Linked DNA regions of Homo sapiens. The gene in region 1 interacts genetically with each later gene. Each region holds a gene or a part of one and is shown in the gene's direction. Other genes may lie near its edges.

The links.
Region 2: changes in MAP2K1 (region 1) and ING5 are lethal when combined (synthetic lethality), as found in Homo sapiens cells (one large-scale study listed by BioGRID).
Region 3: changes in MAP2K1 (region 1) and HDAC2 together harm fitness more than expected from each alone (negative genetic interaction), as found in Homo sapiens cells (one large-scale study listed by BioGRID).

What each region holds. Positions count from the first base shown.
Region 1 is NC_000015.10:66,487,912-66,492,044, forward strand, and holds the end of MAP2K1 (dual specificity mitogen-activated protein kinase kinase 1), read left to right. Parts: intron 1-1,303; coding exon 1,304-1,365; intron 1,366-1,806; coding exon 1,807-1,852; exon of another isoform or gene 1,853-2,590; coding exon 2,591-2,704; 3' UTR 2,705-3,633; downstream 3,634-4,133. UniProt on the Homo sapiens protein: Dual specificity protein kinase which acts as an essential component of the MAP kinase signal transduction pathway.
Region 2 is NC_000002.12:241,715,512-241,719,237, forward strand, and holds part of ING5 (inhibitor of growth protein 5), read left to right. Parts: intron 1-3,726. UniProt on the Homo sapiens protein: Component of the HBO1 complex, which specifically mediates acetylation of histone H3 at 'Lys-14' (H3K14ac) and, to a lower extent, acetylation of histone H4. Component of the MOZ/MORF complex which has a histone H3 acetyltransferase activity.
Region 3 is NC_000006.12:113,943,649-113,947,374, reverse strand, and holds part of HDAC2 (histone deacetylase 2), read left to right. Parts: intron 1-1,226; coding exon 1,227-1,367; intron 1,368-1,904; coding exon 1,905-2,013; intron 2,014-2,964; coding exon 2,965-3,095; intron 3,096-3,726. UniProt on the Homo sapiens protein: Histone deacetylase that catalyzes the deacetylation of lysine residues on the N-terminal part of the core histones (H2A, H2B, H3 and H4).

The sequences.
Region 1 (4,133 bases):
CTTCCAAATTTTCACATTAATTTCCCATGCAATTCTCCCAAGCATTGCTGAGGTAGGCCAAATTGGTTCCTCTTCAAACAGGTGAGGAAATTGAGCCTCCGAGATGAAAAGTAGCCCAGGTCCTTCCCACCCAGTGCTCTTTCTTCCTTGCCACCTCCCACCTCCCATTCTTACCTCCTAGGAGGCTTGGCTGCATGGCAGTTGTTCTACTGCAGCCTCTGCTGGCACACAGCCCCTCTGCTGCCTAGCTCTTTCCTGTTCAGAAGGAATGGATGCTGCCTCTGGAGGCCAAGCTGCTGGTCTCCTCTCTTCCTTGAATGGTCCCTTGATTCCCTCAGCAGTGGGGACAGTCTGCAGAATGGGGCTTGCTCTGGGTCACTGTTCTAAGAGCTGAGTTCTAGTCCTCACCTAAGATCAGACTGACATGGCCCTCAAAGGAAGAGCACTAGGTTGGGCTTTGTGGTGGGGATCAGTGTCTCATTTTTAGTCCCAAATTAAAAACGAGATTTTGGGCTGTACATCAGAGCAGTGACATCATGGACATTATGTCTGTGGGTCAGCATGGGTACACACAGCTCCCAGCCCAGGTACATAAGTGGGCCCACATTTCCTGGACTGCATGGAACGCCATGAGCCCAGTGCTCCAGAGCCTTGTACTGTATAGTGCTGCATGATCACCATGGGAAAATCTGAAAACAGCCTCATTTCTGGAATGTACAGGTAACATTCTTCCAGATCCAGCCCTCTGTCAGTTAATGTTTTATTAACTTTTCACTGCTTCTCTAGGGCTCAGAAAAGGGATTTTTAAAAACCGGTTTGCTTCTGCAGGTGCTGTCAGACCTGGGCTATGCCTGGTGGTTTGCACGTGCCCCTAGCTGTTGCTGCCAGTAAATTGCTGGTTACGTTCCCATGCCGCACTCCAAGATTTACCATTGTAGAGTGTCAGAGCTTGAAAGGGTCCCTGAGATCATTAGGCCCAACCTCTTCATGTCATAGAAGAGTAAACTGAGGCTCATAGAGGAATAGTGATTAGTTCAAAATCACCCGACAAGTGAGTGGACTTGACTTGGTCCCAATTCTAAATGTGCTATTTGAGATCAGTGGTTCCAACATGGTTACCCAACAGGCAGCACTGGCCTTCTACCTGTGCCTTTCCTTGACTGGATGAGAGTAGTACTGCCTTTGGACTGCAGAGAAGACTTTAAAAAAAAGTAGCACTGGCTGGTGGGAGGGGTGGGATGGGGAGAGGAGATGGCTGGAGCAAGGAGCCAGGCATTTTTCTTATCTCAACATGTGTTTGCAGCCTCCTCCAAAACTGCCCAGTGGAGTGTTCAGTCTGGAATTTCAAGATTTTGTGAATAAATGGTAAGTTGGCTCCTTGTTCTCTGGAAGCGTATACTCTGGATTTGTCAGGCTCCCCACCCCATTTCTGGAAGCACCAGCATTGCTTCTGCAGGCAGAGTTTTGCCCTTTACCCTCCCGTCTGATGATTCTTGGCTGCTGCCATAAGCCCTTTTTTAGAGTGCCAAGACTTATGTGGCATGTCTAACTACATCATGGATGTAGTAGCTGCTCCTTTTGGTACTTGCTCTCCAGGGATTGGCACGTTGCTTTTTGACCTTAGTTTAACTCAGCAAGAATGTATTAACTTACTGTGGGCATGATACTGTGCTTAGAACAGGAGGATGAATCAAGCCCAGGCAATCCTCGGCCTCTAGTGTGCAGAGAAGACAGGCATGCAAACATGTTATTTGAGCTAGAACCAGTGCCAGGCAACAGCTCTTACCTTGTCTTTCTTCCTTTAAGCTTAATAAAAAACCCCGCAGAGAGAGCAGATTTGAAGCAACTCATGGTGAGTCTATTTATTCCGGATTCTTACAGTACCTGTTTATTCATTTGTTCTTCTCTGTCAGTCATCTGTGCAGTACTTCCAGAGCCCATTCATTCCCTGCCCACTGTGGTCCAGCTGAGCCTGGGGCTGCAGAATACCAAACACCAGTCTCCTTTGCTCTCCCATCAGTTTAAGGGAAAGCTGGGGTGACCCCCGCAGCCTGAGTAAGCATATGCCAGAGGAAATGCCTGAGGGGGCCATGGGAAAGAAAAGGCCAGCCCACCCCCTTCATGGGGATGCGGCCTTTCCCTAATACTGACTGCCTCATCTTACATTCAGCCTCCTTCCAGAGTCACTCTCCGCCTGCTGTCTCGTTTGGTGGCAGTGGAAATAGCTAAGTAATACTGTAAATATCTGGACAGCCATAGACGGTGTATATAGTATATAATATGCACTAAGTCCATCATTTTCTTTGTCCCTTCTAACAAGCCTGTGAGGCATTTAAGGCAGAGTTACTGTCTCCATACTGCACGAGTAGGCTCCAAGAGGTGACTTGCCCAAGGCCTCACAGCTGCTGTGACTGGTGGAGCAGGTCTTTGGGCCTGCAGCTGGCCCCACTGTTGCTCAGGGGCAGGTGCCAGGTGCTCTTTCCAAGTGCAGCACAAGCTCTAGACCTGAAACTCTTGGATTTTCCTTCCTGGTGGGTTTTGTTTTTTTGTTTCTTTTTAACACCACGTCCTCTCGTTTCCTTACATGCAGGTTCATGCTTTTATCAAGAGATCTGATGCTGAGGAAGTGGATTTTGCAGGTTGGCTCTGCTCCACCATCGGCCTTAACCAGCCCAGCACACCAACCCATGCTGCTGGCGTCTAAGTGTTTGGGAAGCAACAAAGAGCGAGTCCCCTGCCCGGTGGTTTGCCATGTCGCTTTTGGGCCTCCTTCCCATGCCTGTCTCTGTTCAGATGTGCATTTCACCTGTGACAAAGGATGAAGAACACAGCATGTGCCAAGATTCTACTCTTGTCATTTTTAATATTACTGTCTTTATTCTTATTACTATTATTGTTCCCCTAAGTGGATTGGCTTTGTGCTTGGGGCTATTTGTGTGTATGCTGATGATCAAAACCTGTGCCAGGCTGAATTACAGTGAAATTTTGGTGAATGTGGGTAGTCATTCTTACAATTGCACTGCTGTTCCTGCTCCATGACTGGCTGTCTGCCTGTATTTTCGGGATTCTTTGACATTTGGTGGTACTTTATTCTTGCTGGGCATACTTTCTCTCTAGGAGGGAGCCTTGTGAGATCCTTCACAGGCAGTGCATGTGAAGCATGCTTTGCTGCTATGAAAATGAGCATCAGAGAGTGTACATCATGTTATTTTATTATTATTATTTGCTTTTCATGTAGAACTCAGCAGTTGACATCCAAATCTAGCCAGAGCCCTTCACTGCCATGATAGCTGGGGCTTCACCAGTCTGTCTACTGTGGTGATCTGTAGACTTCTGGTTGTATTTCTATATTTATTTTCAGTATACTGTGTGGGATACTTAGTGGTATGTCTCTTTAAGTTTTGATTAATGTTTCTTAAATGGAATTATTTTGAATGTCACAAATTGATCAAGATATTAAAATGTCGGATTTATCTTTCCCCATATCCAAGTACCAATGCTGTTGTAAACAACGTGTATAGTGCCTAAAATTGTATGAAAATCCTTTTAACCATTTTAACCTAGATGTTTAACAAATCTAATCTCTTATTCTAATAAATATACTATGAAATAAAAAAAAAAGGATGAAAGCTACTTTTGCTTTTGTGGTAAGCTTTTCAGTTTCTTTAGTACACAAGAAATACTGGTTTAGCCAAGCAACACTGGTGAGGGGGAAAGGTGAAGATGAGGAGGAGGCTGGAAGGCAGAAACAGGACACCGAGTTCAGTGCTTTGGACTAATGGGGCTTCCTGTAATTTCAATCTCTGGACTCAGTCCAGCTCTTCTCACCCAACACCCTTATCTGTGACTCTTCCAACCACCTTCCTTGTGGGACCTGTGAATAGATCCTGTATATTCCTTTGATCTCTTTTATACAAGGGAAAAGCAGCTGATGGGGGACTGGGAGCAAATCTGAGAAAAATGACAAAACATTTCTTATCTCACAGAACATTTCTCATTTTCCATATACCAATAGTTGAGCTGAGGGCCTGCCTGCACTTTTAGGCTGTCATGCTCATAGGAGGGCCTTGCTGGTGGCCAGCTTGCCTACCTGGTGTGGGAGCTTTCTGCACAACATAGGACAGTCTGTCTCC
Region 2 (3,726 bases), on another chromosome or scaffold:
TCACTCTGTTGCCCAGGCTTGAGTGCAGTGGTGTGATCTTGGCTCACTGCAACCTCCACCTCCCAGGTTCAAGCAATTCTCTTGCCTCAGCCTCCTGGGTAGCTGGGATTACAGGCACGTATCACCATGCCTGGCTAATTTTTTTTTGTATTTTTAGTAGAGACAGGGTTTCACCATGTTGGCCAGGCTGGTCTTGAACTCCTGACCTCAGGTGATCTGCCTGCCTTGGCCTCCCAACATACTGGGATTACAGGCGTGAGCCACCGCACCTGACCTAGAATTTTTTTTTTCATGCTACTTCTTTGCCCTATAACTTATGTAGAAGTATGTGTCTCAATTTCCAAATAATTTGGGATTTTTCAGATACCTTTCTAATTTTAATTTTTTAGTTGACTTCTGTTGTGGTCAAAGAACATTACATAATTGAAATCCTTTGAAAGCCAGCTAATTTTTGTATTTTTAACAGAGACAGGATTTCACCATGCTGGGCAGGCTGGTCTCGAACTCCTGACCTCAAATGATCTGCCCACCTTGGCCTCCCCTCCCTGTAAAGTGCTGGGATTACAGGCATGAGCCACCGCACCCGGCCTTCATTGCAATATTTGGTCTGTTCATATTTAACATAATTAATGATATGGTGGGATTTAGGTTCACCATCTTGCTATTAGTTTTCTGTTTGTTCCTTCTGCTCCTTTGCTGTCTTCTTTTGGACTAATCAGGTATTTTTTAGTATTCCGTTTTTTTCCCCACTCTTGTCTTATTAGCCATGCTTTTTTTTTTTTTTTTTTTTTTGAGACGGAGTCTTGCACTGTTGCCCAGGCTGGAGTACAATTTGCAATGGCATGATCTTGGCTCACTACAACCTCTGCTTCCCAGGTTCAAGCGATTCTCATGCCTCAGCCTCCGCAGTAGCTGGGATTATAGGTGTGCGCCACCACACCCGGCTAATGTTTTTGTATTTTTAGTAGAGACAGGTTTTCACCATTTTGGCCAGGCTGGTCTCGAACCCCTGACCCCAAGTGATCCACCCACCTCGGCCTCCCAAAGTGCTAGGATTACAGGCGTGAGCCACTGCCCCGGCCCCTGTATTTTAAGGATTGTTCTAGTGTGTGCACTCAGTTTCCTTAAGTTATCACAGTGAGCTTCAGATATTACACTATTTGATGTTTAACGTGTGGCTCCACACAAGTGTTCTTCCATTTCCTGCCTTTGTGCTGTTGTCCTTCACTTTGCCTGTGATCTGAGCTTCCCAGCACGTTATTACCTTAGATGCAAACCACTGATGACGTGAAACACGCCTTAAAATATATGTGGAATGTAAAGATGTTGAACTCACAGAAGTAGAGAGTAGAATGGTGGTCAGGCGCTGGGGTGGTCAGGGGAGACGTTGGATACAGAATTTCATTTAGATAGGAGGAATAAGTTCAAAAGATCCGTTTTACAACATGGTGACTACAGTTAATAACAATATAGTCTCAAAAAAATGTGTAGATTTTAAGTGTTCTCACCACAAAAGTCACCCCATATATAGTTACCTCATATAGTTGCCATTTCTGGTAACCTTCATTTTTTTTTTTTTTTGAGACAGAGTCTTGCTCTGTGTCCCAGGCTGGAGTGCAGTGGTGCGATCTCAGCTCACGGCAACCTCTGCCTCCCAGGTTCAAGTGATTCTTGTGCCTCAGCCTCCTGAGTAGCTGAGATTACACCCACCTACTCACCTGGTTAATTTTTGTATTTTTAGTAGAGATGGGGTTTTGCCATGTTGGCCAGGCTGGTCTCGAACTCCTGGCCTCCAGTGACCCTCTCGCCTCAGCCTCCCAAAGTGGCAGGATGACAGGCATGAGCCACCGCGCCTGGCCCAACTATTATTTCTTAATATTTATTTTCTTTCTTTAAAAATTTTTTTTCCATACATATTCTGCTTACGTATATTTCTTTATGTGGATGCAAATTTCTGTCTTGTCATTTCTCCTCTACTGAAGAACTTTAACATTTTTTGCAGTACATGTATGCTGATGGTGATGAATTCTCTGTTTTTGTTTCTCTGAAAATGCTTTTATTTCACTGCGTATAGAATTTTAGGTTGACCTTTTTTCTTTTATCGCTAAAGATGTTCTCTCATTTTCTTCTGTCTTTCATTGATTCTGATGATAAATTACTGATAATAATTATTTTTGGTGGTTTCTTTTTTTTTTTTTGCTTTTAAGATTTCTCATTGTCACTGGCTCTTAACAGTTTGGTTATGATGTGTATTGGTGTGATTTTTTTGTGTATATTTTGCGTGGAACTTGTTGAGCATCTTTGAACTGTTGGTTTATACTTTGCATCGAATTTGGAAAATTTTCAGACAGTTCTTCCAGTATTTTTGTGCTCTCCTTTCTCCTCTTCCTGCTGTCCAGCTCCCTGTGCGTTCCTTAGCTTAGATTTTCTCACAGCTCACCGAGGCTCTGCTTACTTTCTGCAAGCTTTTTTCTTTCTGTACTTCAGTTTGATTTGTTTCTATTACTTTATTTATTTATGAGACAGGTTCAGGCTCTGTGGCCCAGGCTGGAGTGCGGTGGCGCAATCTCCGCTCACCGCAGCCTCTGCCTCCCGGGTTCAAGCCATTCTCCCGCCTCAGCCTTCCAAGTAGCTGGGATTACAGGTGAGCGTCACCACACCCGGCTAAGTTTTGTATTTTTAGTAGAGTCGGGGTTTCAGCCTGTTGGCCAGGCTGGTTTCAAACTCCTGGCCTCAAGTGATCCGCCCAGCTCAGCCTCTCACCTTCCCTTTCCTTCTTTCTTTCCTTCCTTCCTTTCTTCTTTCCTCCCTTCCTCCCTCCCTCCCTCACTTCCTTCCTCCTTCCCTCCCTCCCTCCCTTCCTCCCTCCCTCCCTTCCTTCCTTCCTTCCTTCTTTTCTCTTTCTGTCTTTTTTTTTTTTTTTTTGAGACGGTCTTGCTTGGTCACCCAGGCTGGAGTGCACTGGTACAATCTTGGCTCACTGCAAGCTCCGCCTCCCAAGTTCAAGCGATTCTCTGCCTCAGCCTCCCAAGTAGCTGGAATTACAGGCACGTGCCACCATGACTGGCTAATTTTGTATTTTTAGTATAGACAGGGTTTCACCGTGTTATGCAGGCTGGTCTCGAACTCCTGGCCTCAGGTGGATCTGCCTGTTTTTGGCCTCCCGATGTGCTGGGATTACAGGCGTGAGCTGCTGTGCCCGGCCCTAAGTTAGTTTTAATCTCCTTTAATACATTTTTCATTTAAGAGATTGTAGGGCTGGGTGCTTTGGCTCATGCCTGTAATCTCAGCACTTTGGAAGGCTGAGGTGGGAGGGTCACTTGAGTAGCCGGGATCACAGGCATGTGCCACCATTCCTTGGTAACCAGCTTTTAAAAAAACATAATCAGTCCTATTTCCCTGCTGAGGGTACATGTCTCATGATTTATTAGCTGTCTGACTTTAGATATAAAGGAAGCGTGGAGAGGGAAATTTCTGTTCTCCCCAGGAGGTGTTCGTTCTGTTTTAGTCCAGGCCAATAGGGCTGGGGGCCTGGGGCGGGGCAGGGTCTCAGCTTCAGCTCCACCGAGGCCCCTTGAGGACCTTGAGGTTTCCTCTCTCGCCTCCTGCCCCAGCGGCTTCCACAGTTGGTAGAAGTGCGGGGGAGGAGACCAGCGGTGCCCGAGCAGACCCCTTGCTCGAGAACTCCGAGGTTGCAGGGATTTTCCCTCTGCTTTTAGTTGCTCT
Region 3 (3,726 bases), on another chromosome or scaffold:
AAGTTAGTTATCTCTTTTCCATCTCCTTGCTGCCATCAGCTATGTTCTTCCTCTTGTATTGTCTCCCATTCTTCATTTTTACAAATTTTGGCCTTTAAAAAAATCCCTTTCGAGTCATTTTTGTCAAGTTTTGGGATGAAGGAAAAGTAAACATCTTTGTTTAGCCAGCTATCTTTACTTGGAAGCCTGTAAGTTAACTTTTAGTATGTTTGTTTTTTCTTTAAAAATATCCAAATGGTTTTTATCTGTTAAAAGAAACTTTTCTAGTAGCAATAATAAAAATTGAGTGCTAGAATTATGTAAATCACATGTTGCAACTATTGAAGAATGCTTAATGAAAATTCCCACAGTATACAGTTACATGAAGAGAACAGATAAACTTTGTAAAATTAACTCTGAAATGGAAGGAAATATAGAAAAACGATTTTTGAATAATGTCATTTTTAGGTGGTTAGTTTTTTCATTGTCCCTTTTTAATTTTTTCCCAAATACTCTTCAGTATGCACAAATGTCTTTTGTAATTGAAGGATTTTCTTTTCTTCTTTAAAGATTGAGTTATGTGCCTAACTGGTAATATTCCGAGAAGGGAACTTACTGGAAACTTATAAATGTTTATTGAATTATGACATTTATCCACATAAAATATTTACTTTTATGTTAGGTTTACTATTAATATTAAATTTCTACACGTAGAAGTTGAAGTTTTTGAAAATTAATAGATGTTTTTAACTCTTAAGTTAGGAAAACTACTCAGTACCACTACCTAAAGTTAACTCAGGGTTAAACTATGTTGTTTAGCTTTCCATAATTATTTTACACATGTCCATAGGGAAAGAAAAGTCAATAAAAATTAATTTAGATGATACATAATGTTTTATTGTAACATGATGAATTTCACCATGTAACCCTACATGAACATCTTTCTGTGTTAATAAAATAGGTGTATATTCATATTATAATCTTAATATAGTTGTGTACTTGACTTTTCCATCAGGGACACCTGCTAAAATAGCTAGTTATATCTTAATTTTTTAATATGTATTATTGTATAACGTGTTTGGAAAGGAGTTTTAGACTTGACATTTTTTACATTTTTATTTGTTTTTAAAATATTTAGAAAACCCATTTTGGTTGAGTAACATTTGCACTTATTATCTTTTTAAAATTTATTTTTCGAACTGTTGCAGTATGCAGATTTTGTTGTTACCCAAATCTTCTTGTCTTAGGTCATGCTAAATGTGTAGAAGTTGTAAAAACTTTTAACTTACCATTACTGATGCTTGGAGGAGGTGGCTACACAATCCGTAATGTTGCTCGATGTTGGACATATGAGACTGCAGTTGCCCTTGATTGTGAGATTCCCAATGGTAAGTGTTCTCATTACAATATCTTTATTGTATGAACTGTCAATACAGATGCTCCTCTAATTATGTTGCAATTAGGTCCTGATAAACCCATCATAAGTTGAAAGTATGATAAGTAGAAAATGGATATAATACACTTAACCTACCAAACATGACTTAGCCCAGCCTACTTTAAACGTGCTCAGAACAGTTAGGTTAGGCTTCAGTTGGACAAAATAATCTAATACTGAGCCTGTTTTATAAAAATAAAACGTTGAATATTTCATGTAATGTACTGAATACAAGACATTGAAGTTGGTACAAAAAAGCCAGAAAACTGTAAGTCAAGCCATTGAAAGTCAGAGACTGTCTGTATATAGAAATAGATGGATGAATGATTAGAGTAAGTGCCATTCTTTATAAATAGGAGAACATTCACTTTGTGTTCACTTTTAAACATTTTCTTAGGAAATATTTCACCACCTAAATCTGGATTCTGTGCATGGTTTTTTGTGAAAACTGAGCTTGTAATATGTAACTTTATTTTATTGTTTTCATTAGAGTTGCCATATAATGATTACTTTGAGTATTTTGGACCAGACTTCAAACTGCATATTAGTCCTTCAAACATGACAAACCAGAACACTCCAGAATATATGGAAAAGATAAAGTAAGAAATCATTGAATTGTTTTGATAAACATTTTATCTTGACAAAGATTTAGTATGCTTTAAAGGGCCAAGTATGATGGGTCTTTTTAACTTTATTAGATATTTTGTTTTTTTCTAAAGGATTTGAAACATTAAGTTACTGATTATTCTTTTTTTTTTTTTTTAATTTTTAATTTTTTTGTCAGGATGGGATATTGCTTGGTTGCCCAGGCTGGTCTCGAACTCCTGGCTTCAAGTGATCCTGTCACCTCTGCCTCTCAGAAGTGCTGAGCTTACAGGCATGAGCCACCGTATTCAGCCATTTAATTTCTTCAGTTAATGGAAATAATTTTTTTTATTAGTTGAAATGTATTTTAAAATTGCAAGGTGCACTATAAGTTATTTTCATTGTCTGGAACATTTTGTTAAGGCTTTGTCTCCACAAGCAAAGTAGAGACATTATAGTACATAGCATGGGTTTGAGTCACCTCTGTACCACAAACAAGCTGTATGATGTTTGATAAGTTCACTTGCCTTTGTGCTTATGTTTTCTCATCATTGAAATGGCAGGCTAAAATAATGCCTCCTTGGCCAGTCAAGGTGGCTTATGCTTGTAATCCTAATGCTTTGGAAGTCCGAGGTGGGAGGATAGCTTTAGACCAGTAGTTTGTGACCAGCCTGGGCCATATAGTGAGACCTTGTCTGCAAAAAATTTAAAAATTAGCCGGGCATGGTGGCATACACTTGTAGTCCTAACGCGCAGAGGCTGAGGCAGGAGGATTGCCAGGAGTTTGAGGCTGCAGTGAGCTATGATCTTGCCACTGCACTCTAGTCTGGGCAACAAAGAGAGACCTTTTAATATATAGGTTTAGCTAGACCAAAGATGAAATTTTTTGCTAAATATTTTCTCTTGCATGTAAGAACTGCAAAGAAATTTAATTTTGTCTAATAAACTTTGCATGTGTAATTTAGACAGCGTTTGTTTGAAAATTTGCGCATGTTACCTCATGCACCTGGTGTCCAGATGCAAGCTATTCCAGAAGATGCTGTTCATGAAGACAGTGGAGATGAAGATGGAGAAGATCCAGACAAGAGAATTTCTAGTAAGATAATGCCTTTATTTTTCCAATTTGTCAAAATGATAATTGAAATGGAAGGTTTTAGTGGCCTAAGAACTTCACTATAAAGTCATGTTCACGAGCACACTGTTAATATTGTCATTTTTGCCACTTTCAGAGATTTAGCTTCCTGATGTCTCAGAACCTGATTTGGGTGTCAGCAGTTTCAGTTTGTATGGCTGGATATACATATATGATTGAAAGTTTTCAAAAATTAGCAACTTTAGTATATTTGGAAATTAATAAGACATCTCATTTATCTAAAGTAGGGTGAACTAAATAACTAAACATCTGTTTGATTTTACAACTTCTCATTACACTTAATGTGATGGTTAGATTGTAGCATAACAGTATGTGTAATGGTATAGACTGTCTAACATATTTGGTATTGGTACTTTTTTTTTGGTCTACTTCACCTCTCAGCTCTGAAATAAAATGCTACTTTTTAAGTAATGACATTATTCCCATCCCCTATTAGAAAAACACACTTTTTTCCTTTAGAGTTTCAGCATTTTTAAAGAAAAAGAGATTCCCCCAATTTTTATTATGTGTTTTTGAGCCATTTCTTCATACATGAAAGCAAAGTTTTCAATATTAAATAAACCATTCATTCCAT